Homo sapiens: one gene and its partner. The protein of the gene in region 1 purifies or fractionates together with the protein of each later gene. This does not show direct contact. Each region holds a gene or a part of one and is shown on either strand. Other genes may lie near its edges.

Region 1 (3,814 bases):
TGGCTCGGGGGTACTGCTGTAGAAAGCCTTTTCTGAGTCCTGTAGTACTTCTAGAGAACTCTTACCCTAAAGGTGGTCACGGGGACTCCCAAACTCGCAGTGGGTGTCAGAAGTGAGGATGGTCTTGGAGACTCATGAACTTTGCAACTAGAAATCACTGAACTGTACATTTTAAGTGTACGAGGGTGAGTTGTATGGTACGTGCATTGTATCTCAAAGTCATTAAGAAAAAGGTAAGGACCCTTTAACATAGCCACAATCCCATCATCACACCCCACAATATGTCTGTAGATTGACTCTAAAAATAGAAATGCAGCCGACAGCATATTACACACCAGGGTTATGGAGATTTCAGCCATTACCTGGGTCATTCAAAGGAGGATGATTTTTTTCTTGAGATGGGGTCTCAAACTTTCACTCGATACACAAACGGACATTCTTCCTACTCCAATTCCTGCTCTGAATTACACCTCCAACATTTTGGTTTGCTTTTTCAGACCACATCTTTCTGTATGCTCTTCCTGCAATCTCCCCTTCCCTGCCAGTCTGTCACAGCCCAACTTTAAGTGACTCTCAAGCACACCATGTGATGAATGAAACATCTTTTTATCTTGGCGGCTTGAACCCTAGAGCCCTCCCTCCTCCTGCTGTCACGGAGCTGCTGGAGGTGGGGTGCCGCCAGCAGACCTGAAGAGCCTTATCACCCCAAGATTTCCTTGTACCGTCTCACACATGAGAACTACTGTTCTGGATTCCCAAGTGTTCCTTCTTGGTGTGCTCACTTATTCTGCTGACGGATGACCCTGTGTAACACCCTCAGGAAAGGTGCATGACGGTAAACTTTTTGAGGCTTTTCATGTTGAACGTGTTTTTTTTTTCTTTCTGAGACAGAGTCTTGCTCTGTTGCCCAGACTGGAGCACAGTGGCGTAAGCTCAGCTCACTGCAACCTCCGCCTCGCGGGTACAAGTGATTCTCCTGCCTCAGCCTCCGGAGTAGCTGGGATTAGAGGCGTGTGCCACCTCGCCTGGCTGATTTTTTGTATTTTTAGTAGAGACAGGGTTTCCCCATGTTGGCCAGGCTGGTCTCGAACTCCAGACCTCAGGTGATCCGCCCACCTTGGCCTCCCAAAGTGTTGGGATATAGGCATGAGCCACCATGCCCTGGCTAATGTCTTTCTTTTGTCTTATCTGTGGTTGACAGCTTGGCATGGCAAAGAACTCTACGCTCAAATTCATTTTCTCTCAGAACTTTGAAAGTCTCTCTTCCACTGTCACATAATGTCTGGTGCTGGATATGAAACTGTTGATACCAGTTTCATTATTTTTGAGAGGGTTTCACTCTGTCACCCAGGCTAGAATGCAGTGGTGTGATCATAGCTCATTGCAGCCTCCAACTCTTGGGCTCAAGCGGTTCTCCTGCCTCAGCCTCCTGAGTAGCTGGGACTACACATGAGCACTGCCATGCCTGGCTAATTTTTAAACATTTTCCTGTCGACACAGGGTCTTACTATGTTGCCCAGGCTGGCCTCCAACTCCTGGCCTCAAGTGATCCTCCCACCTTGGCCTCCCAAAGTGCTGGGACTGCACCTGGCCCATTTCAATTTTATATTAATAGATACAACTCTTCTAATTAGTGGATACTAATTTTTAAAGTTCTTGTCTGTCCTCGGAATCATGTTTCTTTCGAGACCTCTAGTTTTGTTTTTGCAGCCATATTTAACAATGAGGGAACCAGAAGGCTGACCAGAGATGGAGGCTTCACTCTGAGTGTAGGATGAAGGTCTCAGTTCTGTCTGGGAGAAAGAAATGCCAGAATGAGCAGGGCCTCATTCTCAGGGGCAGACATCCACGTTAGCCACTCTGGGTCTCTTCAGACTGTTTCCTTTCTTTAAACAGACCCTCGATTGTCACCCAGGGATGGATGCTCAGCTGTGGGCCTGTCTGTGCAAGGATGGGGGAAGGGGAGGCTGACTGGCCTCTCTGCCACACTTCACTTCCCTTCCCCACCTTTCCAGGCCCAGGCCCCACTCTGACTCCTCAGGTGACCTCCTCCAAGTCAGGAGCCTCTCTGGGCTTCCACAGGGCTGTGGGTCCTTGCCTTAGCACAGGGTTGCCACTCATATTCCAGGCCTGCTCCGGCACCGCCCTCTATCAGGCATGGTTTACAAGTCCCGTCTACCTTCCAGAGAGGGACAGGACTCCCTCATCCTGACACATCCCGCTCCTTCCTGTTCCCCCACGGCATCATTTCTGAGCCTTTATAAATGAAAACTTCTCCACAGCCTCAGGCAGGAAAGAGGAGAAACACGTGCACATGCTCCGTCTTCTTTCTTGAATCAAAAACTGCCTTTAATTAGAAACACAACCTGAGTACATATCCTTACAAGACCATGTCCTGACAGAAACAAAATACAATCCTTATGGAATTAGCAAGCCTACAGCTTTAAAATCAGAGCAAAAGCAGCATATGCACAGACACGTGGCTACGGCCCCCATCCAGAGCCATTTCGAGAACAGGCAGCACCAACCTCTGACAGCCTTTGGTTTGAGAGCACGTGAGACTTCACACGTTTATAAATCACAATCTTAAACAGTTCCTCTTTCACTAATAACAAAACTGTTTAAAAGGAGCTGAAAATAAACTTATTACGCTGGAAGAACACCCATTTTGAGTTTTACCATAATCAGAACTTCCAATATCTTTTCCAAGAAACATTTAAGAGGTTTGCACATGCACTCGTGTACACATGCAAGAAAGATCCACTTCAGCACAATCATTAACGCTGGAAGGAAAACAGTTGTTACCTTATAAACGATTAAATGGAGCTCTTCATAAGTGTCATCTGTATTTACAAAAATTTTGGGGAATCTGCATTTTGCATCTGGATCATTGAGGTTCAAGGGTCCGGTAAGAAATCTTAAAAGCAAGAACAGACATGACTTGATTCAACGAGGTGAAGGAGAATCAGGAATCTAGAAACAGAACACACTCCCACTTCATACACACCAGTTGCTTTTGATGCCAGGTGCTATTTGGCAAACACCATATCAGAATATGCTGGCTGGGCGTGGTGGCTCATGCCTGTAATCCCAGCACTTTGGGAGGCTGAGCTGGGTGGATCACCTGAAGTCAGGAGTTCAAGGGCAGCCTGGCCAACATGGCAAAACCTCGTCTCTACTAAAACTACAAAAATTAGCTGGTCGTGGTGGTGGGCACCTGCAATCCCAGCTACTCAAGAGGCTGAGGCAGGGGAATTGCTTGAACCTAGGAGATGGAGGCTGCAGTGAGCTGAGATCGTGCCACTGTACTCCACACTCCAGCCTGAGCGACAGAGAGACACTCCATCTCAAAAAAAAAAAAAAAAAAAAAAAAAAAAAAAAAGGGTATGCTGAAGTAAGTTTTAACTCATTGGAAACAACAAACTTTCCTTTGTTGATTACTGTCAATCAGATGGCACAAAGATATTTCAATGTCCATATTATCTTTACCAAAAAGATAATAGGCCACGCATGGTGGATCACACCTGTAATCCCAGCACTTTGGGAGGCCAAGGCAGGTGGATCACTTGAAGTCAGGAGTTCAAGACCAGCCTGGCCAACATGATGAAACCCTGTTTCTACTAAAAATACAAAATGAATTACCCAGGCATAGTGGCTCATGCCTGTAGTTCCAGCTACTTGGGAGGCTGAGGCATGACAGTCACTTGAGCCCGGGGAGGCGGAGGTTGCAGTGAGCGGAGATCTTGCCACTGCTCTCCAGCCTGGGTAACAGAGCCAGACTCTGAGTCAAAAAAGAAAGAAAACCCAGTATCAT
Region 2 (3,814 bases), on another chromosome or scaffold:
CTAGACCTGTTTGCTCATTGGGAACTGGGGAAAACAGTAACAATGTTTAATATTCTGTCAGTAACCTATTGTGTACAAGGTCCTGCTCTAAGCTCCTACAACTATGTTTTCATCATCTACAGCCAGGGAATAATATAAAGAGGAACTCAATTTATGCCTCATACCACATGGAGAGGCCTGACCCCACAAGGTCACTAGCGCCTTTCCTGTGCCACCTCCCAGAGCGCTCCCCTTCACTCCCTCTGCTCCGGCCACTCTACCCTTTCCTTGCTATTCCTCAAACATAGCCAGGCTTGGTTCCACCTCATAGCATATCAGTCCTTTCCCTCTGCCAGGTGTACTCTTCCTCCTAATATCCACGTAGCTCAATACCTCCCTACTCCACTCAGATGCCATCTGCTCAGGGAGGCCACCCTGATCACTTGGTTTAAAATTCTGCTCCTAACATATATTTTGTTTGTTTTTGTTTTTTTGTTTTTGACGTAGAGTCTTACTCTGTTACCCAGGCTGGAGTGCAGTGGCACGGTCTCGGCTCACTGCAACCTCCGCCTGCCAGGTTCAAGCGATTCTCCTGCCTCAGCCTCCCGAGTAGCTGGGATACAAGCGCATGCCACCACATCCAGCTAATTTTTTGTATTTTTAGTAGAGATGGGGTTCCACCCTGTTGGCCAGGCTGGTCTCGAACTCCTGACCTTGTGACTCGCCGCCCACTCCCCCCAACTCCCACCCCGACTCAGCCTCCCAAAGTGCTGGGATTATAGGCGTGAGGCACCGTGTCTGGCCCATATCTTGGTTTTAAAATTCCAATCTCTACTAAAAGGTATAAGGGCTCCATGGAAAAATGGCTGAGTTGAGGACTGGAATAGAGAAAGTCAAGTAAGATGTGCTCACATAGTGAAGGGGACGTGTCAGAGACACAGGGATCAGCCTGGCTAAATCAGGGTACCCACCGGCTAAATCAGAGGCAATCTGAACACCAAAATAAATGCTAGAGAAGGATTTTAGCTCACTGAATTAAAGAAAAATCCATGAGACAATATTGATAGAAAATTAAAAATTCAATAAATAGGAGAAGGAAAAGTTATTCCTTTTTGTTTTTGAAATGGAGTCTTACTCTGTCGCCCAGGCTGGAGTGCAGTGGCGCGATCTTGGCTCACGGCAACCTCCACCTCCCAGGTTCAAGCGATTCTCCTGCCTCAGCCTTATGAATAGCTGGGACTACAGGTGCGCACCACCACGCCCAGCTAATTTTTGTATTTTTAGTAGAGACGGGGTTTTGCCATGTTTGCCAGGCTGGTCTCGAACTCCTGACCTCAAGTGATCAGCCTGCCTCAGCCTCCCAAAGTGCTGGGATTACAGGCGTGAGCCATCACGTCCGGCCCCATGTTACTCTTTATAGTAAAATCCCAGCCAATAAATGTAGAAAGAATGATGGAGTTAGGAAAACCACCATCTGACCAGGCGTGGTTTTCACCACGCCCTTTATAACTCTTTATAAATATAAATATAAAAACTCTTTATATTGTTTTTGCAGCTTCTAAGTCTAAAGTTATTTGAAAATGAAAGTTAAAAAAATTTAAAAACAAAATTCTTAGCCTAGGACAATACCTGATCCACAGCAGTCACGCAATAAATTAATAAATATGCATTACATGGCAGGTGCCATTTCTGATGAGGCCTCCTTCACTGGCCTCCCTTAGTAGCTGACCTTTAGCAAACCCATAGGAAGTGAGGGCTGGAGCCCAGAGGAGACCAAAGGGAAGGATACCCCAGGTGGAGGGCACAGCAAGGGACCACGCCTGTAGTCTGAGGAGTGCTGGGGACTCATGGAGTCACAATGAGCTGGTGATGAATGGGGTGCCTCCAAACACATGGATTGGGCTACTGGGGAATCGGCAGGCACAGCAGTGGTAGTTAATGGGGCCTCTGGAAAGTCAAAGACACTGTCCTGGTTGCTAATCTGGGAGAAGCACACAGGAGGGTGAGGCTAATGTCGGATTAGAGACACGGTCATTAGTTGTCAGGGGCTTCAAAGATGTGTGTGTAAAGGCAGGGACAGTGTTGCAGGCAAGGCACAGCCCAGCCAGAGGCCTGCTGTGTTTGGTGGAGGCACTGTGGCTGGAGGGGATACAATATAGGGAAAGGAGGCTTGAAGTGGGGAATTAATTCACTCAGAGCCCTGCCCAACTTACCCAGGCCAGTAGTGTCTCCTTCTCAGCCACGTGGTAAATGAGGCGCAGGGGTCGGGAGGTGCTGTGGAGACGAGCATGCAGGCGGTGGTACAGGTCCGACAGCCGCTGCCGCTCCTCCTCTCTGCTGTAGGGGGCCTCTAGCTCAGGGCTGCCATGATGGAGGGAGGTGGAGGACAAGGTTAGTCCAGGGCCTTCTTGGCTGGCCCATTTCCTCCCTCAGTCTAGAGATTTCAATGAAGTTAGGGAGCTGAGCCTCTCCCATGAGACTTGAGGATTCTCAGGGGTTGGAGGCTGACCTTCCCTCATCAAACTAGGAGATTCCCTGAGTACTAGGGCCCTGCTGTCCACCAGAAGAGGGGGATTCCTTTAGGTCTGTGGCTGATGCTCCATCATCAGACAGAGACTTGTTCTCTTCCCTCTTTCTTAAGCATGGCTGGTTATCTCTCCTGAGTCACATCCCTGAGATGCTGAACTTCCTGGTTTGACAGGCCTTCCCACCCAGCCAGTTGCCTTAGGGTCAGGGCCTACCTGGTAAACTGGGGCAGTTGGCGGTGGTGGTCAGGGATGTCCAGCGGCTTATACAGGAAGTGCCGGAGGCCCGGCGCCCCGACAGCCTGCACGCTGTAGGCAGGAGCACTGGCTGATGAGGCATTAGAGAAGCTGGCAGCCTCCCCAAGGGCACGCATGGCACCAAGGGCATGCATCCCATCTTCAACCAGGCGCCGGCAGGCGGCCATGGCATGGAAGGCTTCACGTTGGGTGCCAAGCAGCAGCAGGCAGACAGGCATAGCATCCAGGCGGGCCACGTAGGCGTAGAAAAAACCATCAGGGTTGAAGCGGGGCAGGCACACAGGTGCCCAAGCCTCACCCGCCGCAAAGGCTGGTGCACCCACCCAGTCGAGCAGCAACTGCAGGTCAGCTGGGTCCAGCCGGCACTCGGCCAGCACATTTCGCTCCTGGGCTGCTGTTATAAGTCGACCGCCTACTGCCAGCACTGACAGCGCCAGGCCAGGCGCTGTGCAACGTCGGAGGAGCGCACCTAGTGCGTCTCGCAGCGGGCGGGCAAGGGGCACACAGCGCACGGCACCCAGGAGCAGGGCTCCTGGGTCCTGCTCCATACTGTCCAGAAGTCGGTCCAGTGTGCGCTCTGAACCAGCCAGCAGGCGGCGGAGGTCATAGTTCTGCTTGTGTGCGAAGATGCGGGCGACACTTGCACGTGTAAGTGTGCTCACGATCTGTGCGTGCACAGCTAGCAGCTCCCCCCGCAGCTGGGCTGCTGACTGAGAAGTCCGTGACATGGCCACGAGCAACAGTGGGCCCTGTTGTAGGAACACCAGCTTGTGGTCCTCTAGGGAAGGAAGGGGTAAGAAGGGGGGGTACAGCTGGATCAGGAATGACCAGAGGGAGACAGTGGGGCTCTTCTGCCCTCTCCTACCATACACACACCAGGCCCGAGTCCACATGCTCACTCTGTGGGCACCTGGACTGGGGTAAGGACAAGCTGGAGGAATCTGGACATTTGCAGAGACATGATGGGATGGACAAAGGAACAAGTAGGTTAGATACACAGCAAAGACCACGGGCAGGCGGGTAGAGATGGTACAAGGGCTGACACAGAGCCA

Evidence for each region.
Region 2: the proteins of CCZ1 (region 1) and MON1B purify together in Homo sapiens (affinity purification with mass spectrometry; 2 studies listed by BioGRID and IntAct, with this or other methods). This does not show direct contact.

The regions. Positions count from the first base shown.
Region 1 is NC_000007.14:5,911,946-5,915,759, reverse strand, and holds part of CCZ1 (vacuolar fusion protein CCZ1 homolog), read right to left. Parts: intron 2,918-3,814; coding exon 2,806-2,917; intron 1-2,805. UniProt on the Homo sapiens protein: Acts in concert with MON1A, as a guanine exchange factor (GEF) for RAB7, promotes the exchange of GDP to GTP, converting it from an inactive GDP-bound form into an active GTP-bound form.
Region 2 is NC_000016.10:77,194,061-77,197,874, reverse strand, and holds part of MON1B (vacuolar fusion protein MON1 homolog B), read right to left. Parts: intron 3,541-3,814; coding exon 2,721-3,540; intron 2,341-2,720; coding exon 2,193-2,340; intron 1-2,192.